Regions from separate parts of the Homo sapiens genome. Here regions 2 and 3 are each reported to be linked to region 1. Evidence: microRNA targets listed by miRTarBase, many of them from high-throughput screens and not tested one by one. Region 1 holds a microRNA gene; each other region holds the end of a gene's coding sequence.
Evidence for each region. Region 1 holds the annotated microRNA hsa-miR-4510 (UGAGGGAGUAGGAUGUAUGGUU, at 2,502-2,523, opposite strand). A microRNA usually pairs through its seed, bases 2 to 8, with sites in the 3' UTR of a target mRNA and lowers its output. Matches are read on the target gene's strand: a 7mer-m8 pairs with bases 2 to 8, a 7mer-A1 pairs with bases 2 to 7 and ends in A, and an 8mer does both.

Region 1 (7,198 bases):
CCCTGCAGAAGAGGAAGCAAATATAATGTCCCTCCAGGCTGAAATAGTTACCAGGTTGAGTATTAAATTTAGCTCTGTGCTTTCTGGAAAGGTCAACATTATATCTAACTTGCTCTTGGGCTTTATGACCTCTGTTGAGCCTTGTTACCTAAGGGAGATACCCATATGGAAAAACACAGCATTCTTTTTCTATGTTAAGAAGTGTTGAAGTTTCCTAGAATTTCTGTTGAAAATTCCACATACCCAGACATCAGTTTCAAACCTGACAGGTTTTGCTAATAGGAAGAGTGGGAGAGCTGGATCTGTCAAGGTAAGCAGTACGTATGAGAGTCAGTGAGGCTTGAAGTAGAGGCTTGCTTGGCAGAGGTGAGAGTGCATCTGAGGCTCGATGTCATGAATCTGTGGGCAGTCACAACTGCTAACTCCTGTCTAGTGCTGTGTTCCAGTTGTCTACTGCTGTCTAACAAACCACCTTAAAACTTCAGGCAATTAAGACAAAACTTATTTAATATTTCTTAAGGCCAGGGGGTTGATTGTGCCCAACTGGTTGGTTTTCACCTGAGGTCTCTCAAGCACTTACAGGCAGCTGTCATCTAGGCCTGCAGTCACCCAAAAGCTCAGCTGGGCTAGAAGTTCAATATGGTACGCTTACATGTCTGGTAGTTGATACTAGCTGTCAGTTTTTGAAAGCTTAGCTAGGCTGGAGCAGCTAATCACGGCTTTGTTGTATGGTTCCTGCTTCTCACTGCAGAGACTGGGTTCTTGGAAGAAATGTCCTATGAGCAAATATTCCAAAATGTAGGGATCAGGAGTTGCTGGGCTACTTAAGGGCCATATGCAGAACCTCAGTTGTATATTATTGAATAGAGCAATCACATGGCCTACTCAGATTCAAAGTGGTTGGAAAAATAAACTTCTAATGGTGTAAGGACAAAATCACAATGAAGAAGAGTGTGTAAAGTAGCAAATTATATTGTGACCATCTTTGGAAAATATGATCTATCACATCCTCCAAGAGCTCTCTGTACTCTGGAATCAAAGCAGATATAAAGAATACAAATAAGTATTTTGGGAATATTATTTAAGGCATGGTATAAAGTTATGTAAGCACTGAACTGTAAGATGTAGTGACTTTGACATGTAAAGAAATTGATTATTTAATTGTGAGGACAGGAAAGAGCTCTAGACCAAAATTCTCCTTCTGGCTGTATATTTTATTAGCTATGTAGCCTTGGGATAGTAACTGGGCCTTCTAACTGTGTCTATATAACAAGAGGTCTGGATTGGATAATCTGTAAGAGACATTATCATTCTTAATAACTAGGAAACCATGGGCTTGATGCCTATTTGCTTACTGCGGGTCAGGGAGAATAATATGGTGAATGAATTGCTTATAAATCAAAATAACACATTTTGAACAGGGTTTGCTTTTCTGGGAATCAATAATTGACATTAAATACTGTAGAGAAAGTTATTGATGACATTGATTGTTAGATTAGTCCTTTGGCTCTAGAGTCAAAGGAAGGCATTTCCTAATGATCTTCTATAATATACAAACTTTAAGTTTCTTTTCTATGTATTTCACTCTAATGTGAACTCAAATAATCTCTGACCTGCTAACAGATGTGGAAGCTGACAAATTTATTTGTAAGCAGAATAATTACCTCTTAATATTGATTTGTAAATCCATGTTGCCATTCATTGAATTTCTCCAAGTAGAAACAAGATATATCCAGGTCTACGACTGTGGATGGCTACATGTGGATCCCTACTTAATATTGAATGAGACAATGCATATCTGTCACAAGGTAATATATGATAGCTGTATCTAATTGCATATAAAAGAGGACCAAGCCAATTGACATCTCTCTGCTCTCAAGAAAACAATGTGAGCAGGACATAGATGTGTCTTGTGTTCCACACAGGGGGATTTTGGAGTTGTGGTAAATGAGATGGATTCTCTCCAGCGAACAAACCAAGAAAGGGTTGGAAAACAATATAAAATGGTCAGACATCTTCTGGATAGAGATTGTAGCGGAGTTTAGCATAGGATATGAGCCTTGCTAGGTTTTTCTATAATGACAAGTTTAAACAGGACCAATTTGCATTTTTATAAACAGCAATCACTTCCTAGAATTCTAGGGTTTCCCAAATCAAACTCCTGAATGTCAGTCTCTCCCACTTCAGTCATGGGTAACTGCCCTCTCTCTGAGCATTACCCCTCATTTATCTTAAGGAAAATGATAGACCAGTTTGTAGCATATCCTAAATTCTCTACTTAAATTGTGCTGCAATAGACACACAATGAGACACCATCAACTAAGCAACCACTGAATGACTATTACATACAAGACACTGTATTGGAGGCTATCAAAGGGTATATTCATTCATTCATTCTTCTTCTTTTTTTTTTTTTTTGCTTATTCCATGAACATTTCTGAGTGCCTACTTAATGACAGGCTCTGTCTGTTGTGAGAAAAGATTGTAGTTGTCTATCTAACAACCATACATCCTACTCCCTCACATACACACTATTCCACAGAGGCAACCTGGTATTCATCTTAAAGGCAACAACTCTGGGGCCAGATCACCTGAGTTACAACCCTGCTGTCACTACTGAATAACAGTGTGACCTTAATTAATTAATTAATTAATTAATTAATTAATTTATTTATTTAATACAAGGTTATCTTGCTGTCTCACCAAGGGTGAAGTGCTTTGGCATGTCCATAGCTCACTGCACCCTCAAACTCTTGGGTTCGAAGGATCCTCCAGGTTCAGCCTCTTGAGTAGCTAGAACTACAGGTCCACACAATCACACCTGGTTAATTTTTAATTTTTTTTGTAGATATGGGGTTTCACTATGTTGCCCAGGATGGACTCAAACTCCTGGCCTCAACCCATCTTCCCACCACTGCCTCCCAAAGTACTGGGATTATAGGCATGAGCCGCTGTGCCTGGCCCTTAAGTTACTTAATATCTTGATAAGTTATAGATAATAACCACCTCATATAATTTTTGTATTAAATGATTTAATACACATTTCTATATCTCTTTATGTATGTTTAATAACTCTTAGAATAGTGCCTCCCTTGTTGTAAGTGCTGTGTAAGAGTTGATTTTGTTCAAGTCTTGGTAGGCCATATCCTTCAAAGGAGACTAAGTCCCTTCTCAGCTGAAGGTGCATATCAACTCTGGTTGAAATGACTCATGTAAATTCCATTCTCTTGTCCATGATGTAATGTCATTCTGTCCAGTAAAATGTGAGGGGAAGTCTGGGGTGGATTTCTAGTACAGTTTTTCTGACTTTTATGAAAGAACATAAGGAAGAGATGGTCTATCTTCTCACCTCTGGAAGTTATTGTTGAGGATATAAGGTTGGAGTAACTTGGGGATGTGAGGGGCCACGTAAGGACAAACACGAACATTCCAAAGATGGCAGAACAAAATGTGGAAATGAAATGGATCCCTGAGCCATTCATTGAGCCCTTGAAGTCAGTGATCTTGGAACATACAACAGGACTTGTCAGACAATAAAGATAACAAAGCCCTCATTGTATGAGTCATTTTGCTTGTTTTCTGTTACTTGCTGGTGAGGTCATCAGGTGAACTGACACATCGTTCTTCCCTGATCATGAGGATTCATGGTATCATTAAAATTTCTTTTTTATTTAAACAAATATGAGAAACGAAACACGCTCAGACTTTCTAGTAAGGAAAAACAAAAGCCCACCTCAGAGGACGAATAAGCAAGCCATTTACCCTAATTCAGGTGTGTGGTATTTATTTTAATATGTATAAAAATTACAATAGATACAAGTGTAAAATGGTGTGAGATTGATTTCATCAGTCTTGTCACATAAGAAGAATAAACCTCTGGGTCACTCTCCGCTGCACGATGGCATAATAAATAAGGAAAACATGGTCATGACTCCTTCTCTATGAGAGATGCGATAGTTGATTAAGTGCAATCTATTAGTAGCTGCCAGTAACAAGAAAGGTTAATTTAAACCAGATAGTCTCAGGTTTCAACCTCTTCTATGGCTGCAAATCTGGATAGGTGTCCTTTGCTTACTGGTTCAAGCTACTGACAGGCAGACCTGAAATGGTTTTGGCTTCTGTCTGTGGCCCCAGAGCCAGGCAATCCAATAACAGTCTTTTCCCTTTAACTCTCAAACATAGGGATGATAGTGGCTTTTTGCTACTGTAATGTCTGGGTTGCCTTATTATCATTTGTTTGGCTTCTCAGCACCTCCCTCTATTAAAATTCCTCCTATCTGGAGTGACTATTGTTGTCCTGATTGATACGCTATCCTTGGTTTTATTCTGAACTATGGAAATCATAGACATTAGTTGTAACATCCAAGACTCAACCTTGACTTCTCCCAGTGATCCTACCTTTCCAATCATTGGTGATCATACCATCTTCAGTTGTATTTCAGAGGGGACTTACATGCCCCTGATTGCATGTATTCCCCAGACAAGGTCAACCTGGTTGAAACACAGCCTCAGTCTAGTATATCAATGTGTAATTAGTTCATTGTTTCATTTGACCTATGAATAACTATGACCAAGAGGGTATCAGAATTTATACAAAGCCATGTTATTATGGAATTCTAATATAGTTTGCTTTGCTATATATGATGGTGTTTTCATGAGGAGACTTTCATATATAAATAATAGAGAAAACTTGTAACATGGACTGTCCCACATAAGCAAAGCCACAACAAAAAACACATGAAAAGAACTATTGAAGGGCGAATGGTGGGTAATAAAGTAATGGAAATTATGCAATAAGACACTAGAGAGCCAGATAAATCTAAATCTCTAACAAGTCATGCAGGGTCTTAAGGTTGCAGCCCATGGCAGTGGAGAATTTTTGGGTGGACCTCACTCTGCTGTGCCTGCAGAGGGGTTGCCCTGGCTTTCTATCTTCCTTACTGAGAAGAATTTTCAGCAGTTCAATAGAAAACATTTACTGGGGAAAGGTGATATTTTACATAATGATTTTCCTGCCTTTGATTCCGCACATGTTGTTTTGTCTTTGAAATGTGCTAAAAGATGTATGTAAGCTGTCTGGCACTTTGTGCTTTTACAACCTGTGTTGTTTCAAATCCACAGCAAGGCAATTTTAAGTATTTGGGGTAGCACTTTCTTATGTCTGTTCTTTCTTTCTCCAGGCAGATGAGCTCATCAGACACTATTAGCCCTAGCTATAGAAGTTTAGAGGTAAACCACTGTCTGAACTGAACTAGTAAAACTGCTCTAAGCTGCAGTTTCCCTGAAAGTAAAGTATTAACTATCTATCATGTACTATGATGGATGAAGCCCATTAGATAAAGAAAAAGTCTGTTTTATTGGTTGAAAAATAATTAATCTTTACGAAGGTGATAAGCCTCATTTTACTCTTCATATTTGGAAGGATCTCGTGTCTTGAGCTTTGGCATGAGCATGCTGAGATGGCTGAGTGCAAGAACCACAGATGCTTAAGAGGATATGATGGAAACTTCTAGGTTTGTTACTAAACCAATTCTCTAACTTTTAAAGTGACACAATAAGAATAACGGGGTTAAGATGTGTTCTGAATTTTCTGTAGGAACATGTACACAAAATCAGATTCTGCTCTACAATGTAACAATTTTAGCAACTTCTTGAAATACCTCTATTTGTACCATTATGGTTTGGTACCCAAGTTAAAAGTCTCTGCATATCAGAAGGATGTCACTTATGGGAAAGAAGAAAGAAAAGTTTACTTTCTAGAGTATATTATTTTGGAAACACAATGTATTGTTTACGTGTAATAAAAATATAATGGTAACATTCAAACATGTTCATATCACCTCGTTGTATTTTTAAACTATAATTTTTGGCAATCATCAAGGAAGAAGAGACAATAGGGTGCATTTTAATTACAAAACAAACAAAACAATTCTCCCAGGCATTTCTGATGCAAAAGAGTTTGAGGATGTATGTCTTGGCAGGTCCAAAAATCAAAATGCAATTATTCTTTATATTTGGTTTTGTATTTTACCAGTGATAATGTAACAATTTTACCCACATATAGAACATAAGTAAATTATGCTACAGGTCTTGCAAAGCAGTACATTATTTTGCATCCACAGAGCTAGGTTCACACAACTTCTGCTTACTAGTTGTGTGACTTCTAATAAATATTTAATCTCTATGACTACCTTTTCATCTGAACAATGGAGATAATACCTATCTCGTAAGATTGTTTGAGTAGTCAAATGAGATAATGTAAGGAAAATGATAACTCACAGTTAATGCTTACTTACAATTCTCATCTAGATGTAATTTCCCTTTTTTTATCTTAATACAGAAATCTGAACACTATGGTTTAAACAATGTTCTCTGAAACATATAATTGCAAAAAGTAAAATCAAGGGTACCACCAGCCTAGAAATTAAGGATTTGGTAATTATTCCTTCTCCTGCCCTAATCATTCAGTTATTGCATTACACAAAACTTCCCAAATGTCCTACATGTCCATGATTACAACTTCCTTAGGACTTTTATTAACAAAGGTAGTGCACAGAACAATGCTAATTTTAATGTTCAACCAAGGCAGTAACCAAAAAACAGAATTCCTATTCCTTTGTTTCCTGGACATTATGTCCTGTAGTAACATAAAATGTCATCATATAGGTAATTGCCTATCCAGCTCTGCATAAGACTGGCTTTGAACCTGTGTAAGTGTATACAACTAAATTTGTCTAATCCTTCCTGATCTTGCTCTGATAGGCTGAAACCAGGTTGACCGTGCATGTGTGAATGGCTATACCGTATTGTGCCTTAGGGCACTGTGGTGGAGGTTGCTTGTACATAAAGAAAGGAATTACCTGAAATAGTGCAAATGGATTGTGAAAAATATTGGAATCACAAGATTTCAAACCCTTACTCATTTATTTACACAGCCAAAATCATAGATATTTGTTATTTCTAAAATAAGTAATGAGCAGACAGATGAAGAGAGGGGACTTCTAGAATATTTCTATACTTTTCTGAGCTTACTAATACAAATATCCTGGCCTTCTCATCTATAAATACCATCTTGCAGAAGTTCCATCTCTCTCCTGAGCTATAACTAAAAATTATAAAAGTTGTCATTGAGGCTTCCAACTTTGCCTGTCACCCTTTGGTTTCGTTATTCTTTTTGCTGTCTTAAGTTTCACGGGTA
Region 2 (7,198 bases), not on the chromosome of region 1:
CTGGCCCCTCGCCAGGCCTCCCTTCTTGGCACAGAAGCAGTGACCAGCTGAGATGGTTTGCTTTGGGCATTCTGCATTCTCTTCCTGGGTGATCATCTGCAGCCTGTTGAGAAAGAGGCTTTAACTTCATAGCACGAGAGCTGGGACATCACCATATGGCAGACCCGGCTACAGAGGAAACACCCAAAAATGACAGACTGGCTGCATCCACACTGACTTGGACTCAAAGCCATGACCATAGGTTTTTATGGCCTCCTTGTGAGGAGGTGGGTATGAGTATTGATGATTGGCAGATGGGGAAGAAACAGAAGTTCCAAGAGGCCATGACGGTGGCCAAGGCTCATCTAGCTTGTTATGTATCAGAACTGGAACCAGAACTAGTGTCTTTTTTTCTGCCCAACAGGTTTCCAGTTCTACTGCAAATCACCACTGTGCCCAGGCTGAGCTCAGTCAGAGAGAAGGGGAATGAAGCCAAGAGCCCACAGGATGATTATTTGCCATTCATGTGGCATGCTCCCAGATAGGCACTCTTGGATTATACTCAACCTCCTCACCAACCTCATAAAGTATTCCAGACAGAGCCTGGCCTGTCTACCAGAGGTCTTCAGCAGTAAAGTCGACAAACTTTCAGGGAGTGTTGACTTTTGAGTCTAGAAAGAAAATATTGCAAACAAATCCGATGTATAAAAATGGGCTGAGGGCTGCTTTTTCCTGGTAGGACTCAATTTTGAGTTTTGTGTGGATTTAAAGGGATCCTGCAGGCAAAGTTCTTAAGCTTGAGGTTTGCAGAGGAGCAGTAATAGTAGCTTCAGGCTCAAGAGAACGAACAAAAATGGTTGATGCCTGGTAAGGGGGTCATAGTCGACACCAGAAGCTCTTGCAGGGTGTGTGATGGGCCTTTTGGCCCAGGTCAGTCTGGGTGACACATGAGCTGTGATCTGTGAACAAACTCACCAACACTCCAAAATGAATGTATTAGGACTAAGGCTCCCGAGGAAGGAAGAGTCTGTGCAGAACAGACTCAGCTGAGCCCCACAGAACGAGAACAGGCTGTTCCCTGCTCCCTGTATCATCAGATGTAGAAAGCCAGAGCCTCAGGGAGCAGCCTATGCAAATGTGTCTCTTCATAGCGGGCCAGATAACACTGTCTCTCCTCATCAGAGATTTCATACCTCTATATTGTAACCCACAAGAGGAAACATTTTTCTGTTGCATTCCAGAACACATATACACACAACTCCCTAAGCTTCATAAAACAATACTTATCCTGCAATATGTAATGCATTAAACATTTTTCTTGAAAAACATGCTGGTTGCAAACCATGAATGGCTGTGACCAATGGTTTGAAAAGCACAGCTCCAACACAGCTAACATTTATAAAGCCATACCAGGGCCAGACGCTATACATTCCTATTCATCACCCTCATTTAATCCTTCCATTAACTTTGTGATTTAGATTATCATTCCCGTTTTCAGATGAAAAAACTGAGGCTTAAAGAAGTTACTGCTCAAGGTCATATTTTGGTAGTAGGTGCGGTAATAAGTAGCCAAGCAGACATTTCAACCAAAGACTGAAGCCAGGACCCAAATACTTGGTCACCAGACTATATGGCCTCAGCTGCAGAAATTCAGGGCATCCTTATGTCCGTGTTAGAGCATGTGCGGCCCCTAGAAGGCTTTTAGCGAACGTCCCTCTGCAGCGCTTGTCCTCACTCCTTGGATCAGCTTCATCGGCTCCTCCTGTGGGCCCAACAGAGCGGGATCCCTGGGGGCCACTCTGCTTTGCTACGGCAATCACACTGCTCAAGTCAGCAAGATGTTTACTTGAGGGAGAGGGTGAGAAAAAGAAGGTTCAGGTTGGGAGTACGCTGGTCAGTGGCTTGTTTCTGCTTCACTGTGAATTCTTTCTCTTCTATGAGGTGATCCTAAGCCAGATACATATTTAAAGAATACAAGAAAAAGCCACATGGGTGTTGAAACCCACACGTAGAAAGCAAAGGTCAAGACGTGTTCAGGTCATGTATCCAGGCTGCTACAATGCCCCTGGCTCTAGACTACTCACCGGCCGCCGCTCCCATCTGGAGGTCCCTTGGTTCTACTCTTTTCTCTTTCCCTTCCGGGCTGCTTCTTCACCCAAAGGGCCCTTGGTCTAGAGATGGGTTCCACTGATGAGATGCACAAGGAGTGGTGGGCAGGCTAATAATTTGGATCTGCTTCATACAGACTTTCTTTGATGTCTTGGCAGTTGTTTGTTGGGGAGGCCGCAGCTTATGAGGGAAGGCAGTCTCAGTGGCTTCTCCGCGGAGGGAACACGTGCCTGTCTCACAATCAGCACACCCCAACTGCACTATGCTGAGCCCAGCAGCACACAAGACCCATATCACCAGCAGGCATCAGGGACCACCTGAGGGGGGACTCCTGCTAGCCCCAACTGGATTCTCAAACTTGATAGTCAGAATCACCTGGAGGGCTGTTAAGACACGGGCTGCTGGGCCCCGCTCGGTTTCTGGTTCGGTAGCCTGGGGTGGGGACCGAGAATGTGCATTTCTAACAAGTTCTCAGGTGATGCTGATGTTGACGTTGCTGGTCTGGCAACCTCAAGAACACCTTTGAGGAGGATTCTAGCAAAATCTTTCTCTTTTCACATTTCTTTGATATCTAAGGGCACCTTCTAGGTGGGGCGCCTTCCCCTCTACTGGCTGGCTCACCCTTTAAGCTGATGCACTGCAAGTCTTGAAAAGAGAGAAATTTAAAACCCATTAGCCTGGCTGAGAAAGCCCATCCCAGCCCACCCGGAGAGGAGTTTCTGTGTAATGCCAACCTCACATACATGTTTAAAATGTTTGTTTTTTTTTTTTGAGACGGAGTCTCACTCTGTCGCCCAGGCTGGAGTGCAGTGGTGCGATCTTGGCTCACTGCAAGCTCCACTTCCCGGGTTCACGCCATTCTCCTGCCTCAGCCTCCCAAGTAGCTGGGACTACAGACGCCTGCCACCACGCCCAGCTAATTTTTTTATATTTTTAGTAGAGACAGGGTTTCACCGTGTTAGCCAGGATGATCTCGATCTCTTGACCTCGTGATCTGCCCGCCTCGGCCTCCCAAAGTGCTGGGATTACAGGCGTGAGGGATGTCCACAGTGAGAAGTGTCCGCGCCCGGCTTAAAATGTTTGTTAATTTACCTCACCTAAACGGTTTCTGCATTAGGGGACGGTGGATTCTAACTATTTAAGTGGCCTAGCCAGATGAGCAAAAGCTAATACTTGGGGCTTTTTCAAGAAGTACAGGGCTGGGCCCAGTGGCTCACGCCTGTAATCCCAGGACTTTGGGAGGCTAAGGCAGGAAAATTGCTGGAGGCCGGGCATTTGAGACTAGCTAGGGCAACACAGTGAGACCCTGACTCTATTAAAAAACAAAAAAATTAGCCAGGCATGGTAGTACGTGCCTGTAGCCCTGGATATTCAGGAGGCCAAGGCACAAGAATCACTTGAGCCCAGGAGTTCAAGGCTGCAGTGAGCTCTAATTGTGCCACTGCATTCCAGCCTGGGTGACAGAGCAAGACCTTGTCTCAAACAAAAAAGAGGAAGTACAGTATGAAGAAGACAAAATGGTGGGACTAAAAGGAGATTTAGCACATGCACTTCTACCCAAATGTGTTTTGTGTACATGATATTACCAAGCCCATGCAAATATGCATAGATTATAGATTTGCTTGGATCTAAGCCTTTTGCATATTCAGTCTAGTTGCTATGAACACAAACCTGACAGAGTTGACAGAAGGAAAGCAAGCTGGGGATCACAATCCAACAAGCCACATCTTTATTTTTCACTTCCACTCCCCAGAGCCCAGGCTCTGAAAGACTGTGGCTACGACTGGTTCAATTTCCCATGAGTGCACCAAACAGTACTATCAGAACTCCTGTGACCAAGCCAAAAGTTGGGGCTGACTTTGTGTAGAAAGATGTCCTCTTTCATTACATCCGGAAATACTGAGGAGAGCTCAGGGATGCTTTCCCTTCCTGTCCTGTGTGGAAGCCAGGCTGGGAACCAATCACTACCCTGCAAATGATGGCTACATTCCTCAGTCATTGTGCTCTTGGCAAAATATCAGTCTGAACAAAAATGAAATAGGAAAAATGCCAGGAACCTTGGGGTATTCCTATCTTCTGAGAGCAACTGGTTTGAGAGCTCAGAAACATTGACTCTTTCTAGCCAAGGCCTATACAAAACCAGAGGCAGAATCCTATAGGATATCTGAAGGAACCCCACTCTATTGGAAAGATAAGCATAGTATGCACAGCTTTAAAGGAGGAGTTTCTATTTTTAGGACTAAAAAAAAGTCAGTGCATCTTCAGCACTATCTACTGCATTCCTGAGAAATGCCAGGGGAAAAGAGCTAACCTGGCTCACTTTAAAAAATGCCCTGGAAGATGGAGTATTACCAATCTCTTCCCCCTAGGGGAGGGCCAGAGCTGTAGCCCTGCTCTAGTTATTTAATACAATAACACTTCTTTCATACACCTAACTGAGCTGTATGTTATGAAAAAATTTTAAAAAAGCATATGGAAAACAAATGCTATCAACTTGATCTAAAACAGCATTCTTTTCTTTTTAATCTTAGCATCTCAGCCTCGCCCGTATCGCATGAATAGCACCGTAGACACGAGGTAAAGTTAACTGACTCAGGAAAGCTCTTAGGAGAGCCCATCAGCACAAAGGAATTGATTCAGGCTGCAGAAAGCAAAGGAAAGAGGCCTGGTGGGGCAAGCTGGTTCAAGAGAGGGACCATAAATGCATTTTAAAACAAAAAAAATAAAGTATCCTCATTCAAGAGACAGAGCAATGAAACAAACACCCAACCAGAGAAAACTCAAGTAGATTGTGGATAGTCGGCCTCCCACTAAGGGTAACACCTCAAGAGAGAGCTAAATCAGAACAGGTTTTGGAAAAATTTTATTGCATTTTGTTTCCATGTGGAAGCACTGACAGAATTGAAAAGTGGCAGCATGTTCCACTTACTTTTCTGAAAAATCACATGGCTAGATTAACTTTCGCCCTACCCAGGACAGGATTGAATAAACCTTAACTCCTACCCCCACCCCAAGCAAAAGCTAAAAAAGGGGGTTTCTGGCAATTGCTTAAAAAACAAATCAATGTGTGAGAATTCCCCGATGGTCAATAATCATATTTGTTATTTTTGCACTTGGAGGGCACTCCCTACCTCCTTCACCTCTATCCACCATCACCACCTCCTTCAAACAAGACTGACACAGGAAGTGCCTCTCAAATGGAAAATCTATTCTGTCCCAGTGCCACAGGCTTAGGTGTGTCTGTGGATTCTGGCCAATGGGATGGCCATATGTCAACTTTGAAAGGGTGGGGACTGTGAGGTAACCCCAGCATCATGGTCATCTCCATGCCAGGACAACAGTCTCCCAGGTTAAAATATAGATAAGACACAGGTACGTGCACATTTATGGGGGTTAACTATCAGAAAGTGAATCCACTTTGAGGTTTATAAAATGAGAAGGGGATGATGGTGGGGCTGTATGTGTTGGGCACTGGTGCCTATTGCAGTCAGAATTCACACTGCTTAATTGACATCTTGCTGGGGAAGAGAGGGAGATGGGGTGGTGAGAGAGGAAGCAGATGAAACAAAGGAAAACGTAGCTTGCCTGAAATTGTGTAATTTTTTTTCCTCTTGATTGTATAAGGCATTTTGAACTGGAAAAACGTCTTTCCTACACACTCTTCCAAATAATCACAGGGAATATAATTGCTGATTCAGAATACAAATAAGACCTCTTTCATCTTTCTCCCCACTCCCCCGCAAAATCATTCTACACACCCCAAGCCCATAAAGTACAAGGCAGGCAATTGCTTTGCGAGTTAGCAGGCAAACCGTGTCCACTTGGGGGATGAGGTCGCTGTGCCAAGGTCCCTTCTGATCCTGCCCTTCTCAGGCCTCAAGGGGTAAGCATCCATCTTCGGTGAGGTTTTATGTCCCATCGGGGAGCCCGCCACTGCCTCCTGGGCAGTGGGAGGTCAGGGCCCTCCTGGCTTTCCCATGCATCCCCCACCAGGTGTCCAGACTATTCCATCCACGCACAGCGTCATGTCTCACTCAGTTAGTAGAATGGGCACAGCGCGAGACAGCGCCCTCTACATTAGTCATGCCAGACAGACAGCAGAGAGAAACCAGAGGCCAGAGAAGTGATTTTAAAAGGAAAAGAGAGCAGCTTCGGTCACCAAAAGAAATCGAAAGGATGGTTTTTAAAAAATAAAATGTGGGGACTTTTTTTTTTCTCTGCAATGCTCAGCCATTTTACTTGAGACATAAAAAAAGTTTTAAGAGTAGTTGTTTTGCTTTTTCGATTTAAACATTCATGAGAACGGATGGGACGGTAGTGCTGTGGTGTGGACTTGTGTCTGAGTGGCCATGCCGGTCGGGGTCCTTCAGACCACATACTGGTACGGGTCTGCCTTCCCTTGGTCTGGCGTGGCAAAGGGGCTGGCCCAGCCTAGAGAGAAGGGGTGGCCAAAAACGGCTTTCATGTTCATCCATTTTGTTTTTTTAGCCCATCTTCTCTCTTCCTTTTTCAATTGTTCTATTCCCTGAAAACAAGAACAATCATACTTTCAGTCAAGCACTGCATTGCTGTGGTTTCTGGGGAGGGATGTCCGCAGCGACAGGTGAATGGAGTAAATGTTTCCTTTTTAAAGCAACAAAGCTATCTACCTAATATATCTTTCTCATAAAAAGTGTTACTAAAAAAATTTCTCCTTTTTTTGGTGGGCACTCATTCACAAGTCCCTCCAAGAAGGGAGGGAAAAAGAAGCACTATCAGCAGCGCAGAAACTGCTGCTTGTAAGTATGCCAGGCCGGGGTGTGTCGCTAAGATAAGGAGCGCGTCTCTCCAGCCCTGGCCCCTTGTTGAGCTCTGCAGAGGCACTCTTCAGAAACTCTGTGCTGGGCTGTGGATGGAGTACTATGAAGGCTTTGGCGTGAGAGGCCTCAGAGCTGTTGGGGAGCTCGCAATCATCATAACCAATGATGGCCATTAATTTGGGATAGGTTCCTAGGAAGTTTGAAGCTACCATGACCACCTTGCAGACAAAAAAAAAGTAACAAATCAAATGACTGCTCTGGCGTTGTGTGTCTCACCAGCCTGGGGGATCAAGCAGCACCCCGCTTAGTGG
Region 3 (7,198 bases), not on the chromosome of region 1:
CAGGGATACAATGACTTGGCACTTCGTGTTTATTTTGGAGGGAAGGAGAGATTATTTTTGCTTGTAGAAGGGTAGTTGTATCTTGTTCCATGGAGGCATGAAGTTGTTTTTTCACCACGTTTTTTTTTCTTTTTTTCCGAGTCGGAGTTTCGCTCTTGTTGCCCAGGATGGAGCGCAATGGCATGATCTCGGCTTACTGCAACCTCTGTCTCCTGAGTTCAAGCGATTTTCCTGCCTCAGCCTCCAGAGTACCTGGGATTACAGGCACCCGCCACCACGCATAGCTAATTTTTTTTTTTTTTTTTTTTTGAGACGGAGTCTCGCTCTGTCGCCCAGGCTGGAGTGCAGTGGCGCGATCTTGGCTCACTGCAAGCTCCACCTCCCGAGTTCACGCCATTCCCCTGCCTCAGCCTCCCGAGTAGCTGGGACTACAGGTGCCCACCACTACGCCCAGCTAATTTTTTGTATTTTTAGTAGAGACAGGGTTTCACCGTGTTAGCCAGGATGGTCTCCATCTCCTGACCTCGTGATCCACCCGCCTTGGCCTCCCAAAGTGCTGGGATTACAGGCGTGAGCCACCGCGCCCAGCCTAATTCTTTGTATTTTTAGTAGAGACGGGGTTTCATCATGTTGGCCAGGCTGGTCTCAAACTCCTGACCTCAAGTGATCCACCTGCCTTGGCCTCCCAAAGTGCTGGGATTATAGGCATGAGCCACCACACCCAGCATTTTTCACCATCCTATGCAAGTTCAAGTATGTGCAGAAGCATGTACATGTGAGGGGAACCAAACAGGTGGACTGAGCCAGTCACCACATTGTTGTCTCTCAGCCCCAAACCCACCCTCTGAACTCTGCTCCGAGCCACATTTTCCCCCTCCTAGCTCAACCTGGTAGGACAGGCTGAGGGAGACTGCAAGACGAGAGAAAAAAAGGAGGGACGATGTATTTCCTGTTGTGAGCCAAACCACAGAACACTGCTGTGTGCTGGCATAGCTGATTCCAGGAGTGGTGCTGGTTTCTTGGTGGTTTCTCTACCCTCTGAGAGGCAGCAGCTGCCACTGGCCAGCACGTCCTTCTCCATTGGTCCCCTCCTCTTGAATCTCCATTTTATTTTGAGACACAATCTCTGTCACCCAGGTTGGAGTGCAGTGGTGTGATCTCAGCCCACTGCAACCTCCACCTCCCGGGTTCAAGCAATTCTCGTGCCTCAGCCACCCAAGTAGCTGGGATTACAAGCATGTGCCACCATGCCCGGCTAATTTTTGTATTTTTAGTAGAAACAGGGTTTCACCATGTTGGCCAGGCTGGTCTCAAACATCTGACTTCAAGTGATCTGCCTGCCTCGGCCTCCCAAAGTGCTGGGATTACAGGTGTGAGCCACCACACTTGGCCTTATTTTATTTTTAGATTTAATTTTACATAGAGACAGAGTCTCACCACGATGCCCAGGCTGATCTCACACTCCTGGGCTCAAGCAATCCTCCCAGCTTGGGCCTCCCAAAGTGCAGGTGAATCTTTTTTTTTTTTTTTTTTTTTTGAGACTGAGTCTCGCTCTGTCACCAGGTTGGAGTGCAGTGGCGTGATCTCTGCTCATTGCAACCTCTGCCTCCCGGGTTCAAGCCATTCTCCTGCCTCAGCCTCCCGAGTAGAGTAGCTGGGATTACAGGCACCTGCCACCATGCCCAGCTAATTTTTATATTTTTAGTAGAGACGGGGTTTCACCATGTTGGCCAGGATAGTCTAGATCTCCTGACCTCGTGATCCGCTCGCCTCGGCGTCCCAAAGTGCTGGGATTACAGGCGTGAGCCACTGCGCCCAGCCCTTTTATTTTTTTGAGGCGGAGTTTTGCTCTTGTTGCCCAGGCTGGAGTGCAATGGCGTGCTCTCGGCTCACCACAACCTCCACCTCTCAGGTTCAAGTGATTCTCCTGCCTCAGCCTCCCGAGTAGCTGGTCCGGCTAATTTTGTATTTTTTAGTAGAGATGGGGTTTCTCCACGTTAGTCAGGCTGGTTTCGAACTCCTGACCTCAGGTGATCCGCCTGCCTTGGCCTCCCAAAGAGCTGAGATTACAGGTGTGAGCCACCGCGCCCGGCCAAATCTCCACTTTAATAATCCCAATGTCTTCCCACTGTTCTCAGGTCCCAGGAGTGAGGACTGCACCCTGCAATCCCTACATTGTGATGCCTCAGTGTCCACTCCTGCCCTTTCCTTTCTCCACTACCAGTTAACAACTGCTGTGGTCTCAATTGGACCCTGACGGATGCACCCACGCATCCTGTTCACTAAGCTGTATGAGTCCATTTTGTCTCCCTACCTGAAAGTGCTGTCTGGAAGGGACTAACACCTTCTGAGTTTCCCATGCCCCGCCTGATGCTGAAGTGATCAATACTTGTTTGTTGGTTGTCACCAAACGTTCCTCACTCATCCTCTTCCTTGTACCTAGTCACTCACTCTCTTCCAGAAAGACTTGTCCCTTAAAAACCATCTCACGGCCGGGGATGGTGGCTCATGCCTGTAACCCCAGCACTTTGGGGGGCTGAGGCGGGAGGATCACCTGAGGTCGGAGTTCGAGACCAGCCTGGCCAACACAGCAAAATACTGTCTCTACTAAAAATACAAAAATTAGCCAGGCGCGCAGGCAGGCGCCTGTAATCCCAGCTACTCAGGAAGCCGAGGGAGAATTGCTTGAACATGGGAGGCAGAGGTTGCAGTGAGCCGAGATTGCACCACTACACTCTAGCCTGGGTGACAGAGCGAGACTCCATCTCGGGGAAAAAAAAAAAAAAAAAAAATCTCACACTCCTCCCCTTGTCTCTTTCCAGCTCTCTGGTGGGCAGCCCATCCGTCCCACCTTCTGTTTCTCTGCATTCTCTGGGTCTTTTCAGATTCAGTAAAATGAAAGGGAGGAGGGAGAAGGCCCAACACCCCCTTTGGTGGTTTCAGTAGCAGGAGAAAAGGACTTAGTCAGCTGTCCTGGTAGGAAAGGTAGTTAAGTCATCTCCTGAAACCCATGTGAGAACCATCGACAGGAAGTGACAGTGGGAACCAGGAGACTGCAGTAATGGAAAACACACCACAGTTCTTGAGATTCAGAAGTTTCATATCTTTATTCACACAAAAAAAGTCACAGCATTTCAGACTATTCAAACACACAAACAGGAACAGAGGGTGCCCACCAGTGACAGCCTCGTCCCTAAGTCTGGATCAAAGGCCACGCTGGAGGGTGGGGTGTCCTCTCGGGCCTCCTCTCTCAGCATCCCGTGGCTCCCTGCTCCCAGCCTCACTGACATCCCCAAGAGCAGTTACAACTGTGCAGAAACAAAGTCACTTTAGAGGAGGCTGGGCCCCACCTCATTGCCATGGAAAAAGGCCAGATTCTGAGGAAAAGACAGAATCAGTGCTACTGTGTCATCAGTTGGGGGATGCTGGGCACTCCTGGGCCTGGCTGGCATCACCTGCGTCCCAGACCTGGGGCAGAGAAAAAGGCAGGACCCTCCCCACTTGGCAGTACTGGGCAGCAGAGAGTGTGGGTCACTGGTCACGTGACAGCCCCAAACTGCCACGCAGACCTCTCTGATGTGATCAGCCAGACACTCAGAGGGCACAACGCTTTCAAGCAAGAACACCAGCCTGGTTCCTAAAGGGGGTGGGTGAACAACGCTCCCAGAAATCTTAAGAACCCAGAGTCCTGGAGCGCTGGAACAATACAGGTGTCATTGGGTTGCAGCGAGGAGGGAAACTTGGTGAACACCAGCCCTCCGAGAGGGCGGAAATACCACTCCTGTCTATTTCCCAGAGCACGTGCCTGTGCCTTGGGGCTCAAGAGCAGTCTTTTCATGGCGGCAACTATGGAATCTAAGAGGAATGAAGGAAACGGCGCCCTCAGGAGGTGCTCAACATTGGTGTCTGACCCCCAGGCCTCCTTGCTGAACCTGGTGAGAAAGCTGGGGTTGGTCTAGGAGCTCCAGCCCACGCTGATCAGGCATGCCCCAGGAAAGCAGACAGGGACAAGCGCCTCAACGAGACTGGGCACAAGGCCGCAAACCAAGCTGCTTTTCCTCTGTCAGTCTGATGTTACTCATTGGACCTGGCCAAGGAGCGCCTCTTCCAAAGTCCTCCATCCTACCCGGCTCAGAGCAGTCCTTCCCGTGATCACTACTTTCCTTGGCTACATCTAACTTTTTTTTTCTCTGAAAGATACGACTGGATGGATGCCTGTGACTCTTGAAGGGGTGGCTGCTTTTACTGAGGACGGCAGTTCATCTAACACTTTACAGCTGTAAAATGTGGCGCATAGGTGTGTAGACGTTGATGTGTCAGCAGAAACCCCTGTATACCGGGTTCTATGCTATGCTACAGATACAGAGAAACAAGGAGACTGAGGGTCCTAGGGAAAAGTTATGCCATCTGGGCATGGTCAGGTCAGAAGCTCAAAAGACATTTGGCACAGTCTGCAGTCATTTCCAGAAACTACTACCCAGACGTACCTTGGCAAGCAGGTGAGCTGTGGAGCACACAGGACATCACTTCTGAAGGTGCCCAGGAGCACCTGGCTCGAGGAGGCTTTCATAGAAGGAGAAGTCCCCAGAGCCCCTTCCCTTTCTCTGTGCCATCTGCCATACTACTGAAAGTTATTCGGGGCAGACAGGGTCCCCTGGCTCTACCGCATTCCATGACTGCTCAGCGAGACCCACATGCTCGGAGAGAAAGTGTGGACACAAACTCTGTGGATGCAGCCCGAAAGAGGGTGCTGCCGCATCCGGATCCTCGCCAGCATGGCACTCCAGAAAAGAAAGTAATGGCGGGGGTCAGGGGGGTGGTCAGAGACACAGGGGGTCCCCAGACTGCCTAGCACATACATACATACCACTGGGGACAGTACAGAGGGGAGCAGGTCCGCCAAGGTTAGAAACCAAGAGACACAAATATTGCACATTCAGTCAAGGCATTTCCAAGAGAGTCACAGAAATAACTCTCTCTGAGACACAACATAACACATTTGGCAACTTTCAAAGAAACAGCCTTCCCCACTCCAAGCCATCAAAGGGTCCATAAGTGCCTTCATCTTTGGTCCAGTTGAAAAAGCCAGGGAAGGAAGACAGGGTCAATGGGGAGTAAGAAGAGGCTGCAGGTGCAGTTCCTACAGCTCCCACTTGTCTGACTCAGTGCAGGATGCCGCCTGTCTCAAACCTCTTCTTGGAGGGAAAACAAGCTCTCCAGAGGGTCCCGGCTGCTGGAGAAAGGTGAGGCAAAGCTGCATGTGGTGGCAGCCGGGAGCCCCAAATCCAGAGCAATGATCACCAACCTCCAACCACAACAAAGGACACCCCATCCTCCCTTTCCTTGGAGGCTCTATTCATGGGAATGCGGGGTACTCTGGCAACTCTATGCTTTACCTAAAACCTCAATTCGACAAACTGCAGCTAGAACCCTTTGCATCTGCTGCACGTCTTGGAGGGTGCATAGGAGGGACGGTGTTCCGAAGCAGCTGCTAACGTCCATTGTGGCACACATAGGGTGAAACCATGGCACGGCACGGGAACAATCCTCTTGGCTCCAGCGTCCTTAAAGTACAGGCCATTTCCAAGGAGCTAGGCCTTCCGCCCTCATCCCCCAGATCCCCGAAAGGCTCCGACTGGGAACCCAGCCCAGCTGCTGTTGTAAAGATCTGTTCTAATACTGGCTAAGCAAATGAAAGCAGGTTTCTGAAAAGGTATTCTGCAGCCAGAAGTCGCACTGTCTTCGGAGTCCTGCAGGTGGGGAGGGAGTTCCTTTAGTTTTGACCAGAACACTTCTTCACAGGGGGCCAGGATCAGCTGTGCTTTGCAGTGGCTCGGTCACTGGACAGGAGTGAGGTTTCACTTCACAGAGGGGCTCTGCTGACTGCTCTCCTGAAGGTCTGGAGTTTTCGGGGTCTTAGTTTACATCCGCGATCCTCTCTCCTGAAGAATCTGAAAGTTGGAGATGGGGGAGAGGCTGAGGCTGCTGAGGGAAAGACAGAGATGTCGGGGGATGCTTTCCACTGGACCCGATGAGTGGCATGATGGTCCTGTCATCCCAGGAAGCAAGCAGGGGTGCAGCCGCAGCCTCACCCGCAGTGCTTCTGGTGCGAAACACTCTCTTGCTGGGCACAGCTGGGTCTAAAGCTTATATGCTGTTGGACCAAAGCTTTGCCAACTGAAAGGAAGTGGTTCCAGCTTACCTGGTATCCACGATTTAGAAGCTGTGTGTGTGTGTGTGTGTGTGTGTGTGTGTGTGTGTGTGTGTGTTGGGGGTGAGGGGGGTGCACAGTGGAGGGAAAAGAAACAGTTTTCCAGGAACTTAAGGGAGGTAAAGGTCACCAAGGTAAGAAAACACCCTTTTCTCCTGAGGCAGTGAAAAAAGCACAGTTTTAAAGAATAAATCAAAATACCTTCCAAGTCTGAGTTCAGAAATCCTACCCTGTAGTAATTAGTGGCAACCAGCTTTTCTTTTTCATTGATTTGGCAGAGGATGGAGAAAGTCTACCCTTTTTAGGTTCATATTTTCTAACTAAAAACACCTGTCAGTGCTCCGTAAATCCCAATTAAATTACAACAGTCAAAAATAACAAAACGAGGGGAAAATGCAACGCTGGCTCTAGAAGGCCAGGGAAGAAGTGAGGAGCAAGAGTTCAGGAAAAGCCCACGGAGGGGGTGCGAACAAGCAAGCCAGAGGCAACTGCCCAGGGAAGGGGCTCCTTACCTTCGCCTTTTCGCTCGGCTCTATGACGATGCCATTGGTAGAATTATTTAGTTCTCTGGAGACAACACAGAGGAATTCTGCCTGATCCTCATTGCCGTAGTTATAGGAAGATCCGATGCTGATGAGCTGATGAACCAAGAATACAGTGAACATTCATGTGGCAATCTTAACATACTTTCGAAAGTGCTACACAAATCACCCCTCTTCCGACTGAACTTTTAAGTTATCAAAGGTTTAACTCTTTATATGAGTTCTCTGTGACTACCAAAGCCCCCGGGGAGAAATGGGCCTGTTCTTCATCAGGGCATCATTGGTGAGGCCTCCCCAGGAGGAAGAGTATGAGCTCCACTGTCCCCTCACCCAAGCTCTGAAGTCCCCCCCCGTCAGCGGCAGGATTAACATGCCCACGCCCCGTCGAGCACAGCAAGGGAAGACAGAACGCATCTGCCAACAAAATGGACATTTGCCTCAGTCA

Region 2: the mRNA of ZDHHC3 is a reported target of hsa-miR-4510. Seed matches in the 3' UTR shown: 7mer-m8 at 5,617-5,623, 7mer-A1 at 3,123-3,129, 7mer-A1 at 2,273-2,279 and 8mer at 1,827-1,834.
Region 3: the mRNA of KCTD2 is a reported target of hsa-miR-4510. Seed matches in the 3' UTR shown: 7mer-m8 at 5,762-5,768.

The regions. Positions count from the first base shown.
Region 1 is chr15:35,922,188-35,929,385 of GRCh38, reverse strand. MIR4510 (microRNA 4510) reads right to left here and starts at 2,530; the gene lies at 2,463-2,530. All of the region lies in intron 1 of LOC105370766 (a long non-coding RNA gene), which reads right to left.
Region 2 is chr3:44,920,235-44,927,432 of GRCh38, forward strand. ZDHHC3 (zDHHC palmitoyltransferase 3) reads right to left here. Exons shown (of 7, transcript NM_001135179.2): 7 at 1-6,613. The coding sequence ends at 6,455. Among named protein-coding and RNA genes, the nearest start is that of TGM4, 49 kb to the left of the region's middle.
Region 3 is chr17:75,061,771-75,068,968 of GRCh38, reverse strand. It overlaps KCTD2 (potassium channel tetramerization domain containing 2), which reads right to left. Exons shown (of 6, transcript NM_015353.3): 5 at 6,724-6,849; 6 at 3,083-5,951. The coding sequence ends at 5,922. Among named protein-coding and RNA genes, the nearest start is that of KCTD2, 18 kb to the right of the region's middle. RefSeq lists an enhancer at 1,068-1,137.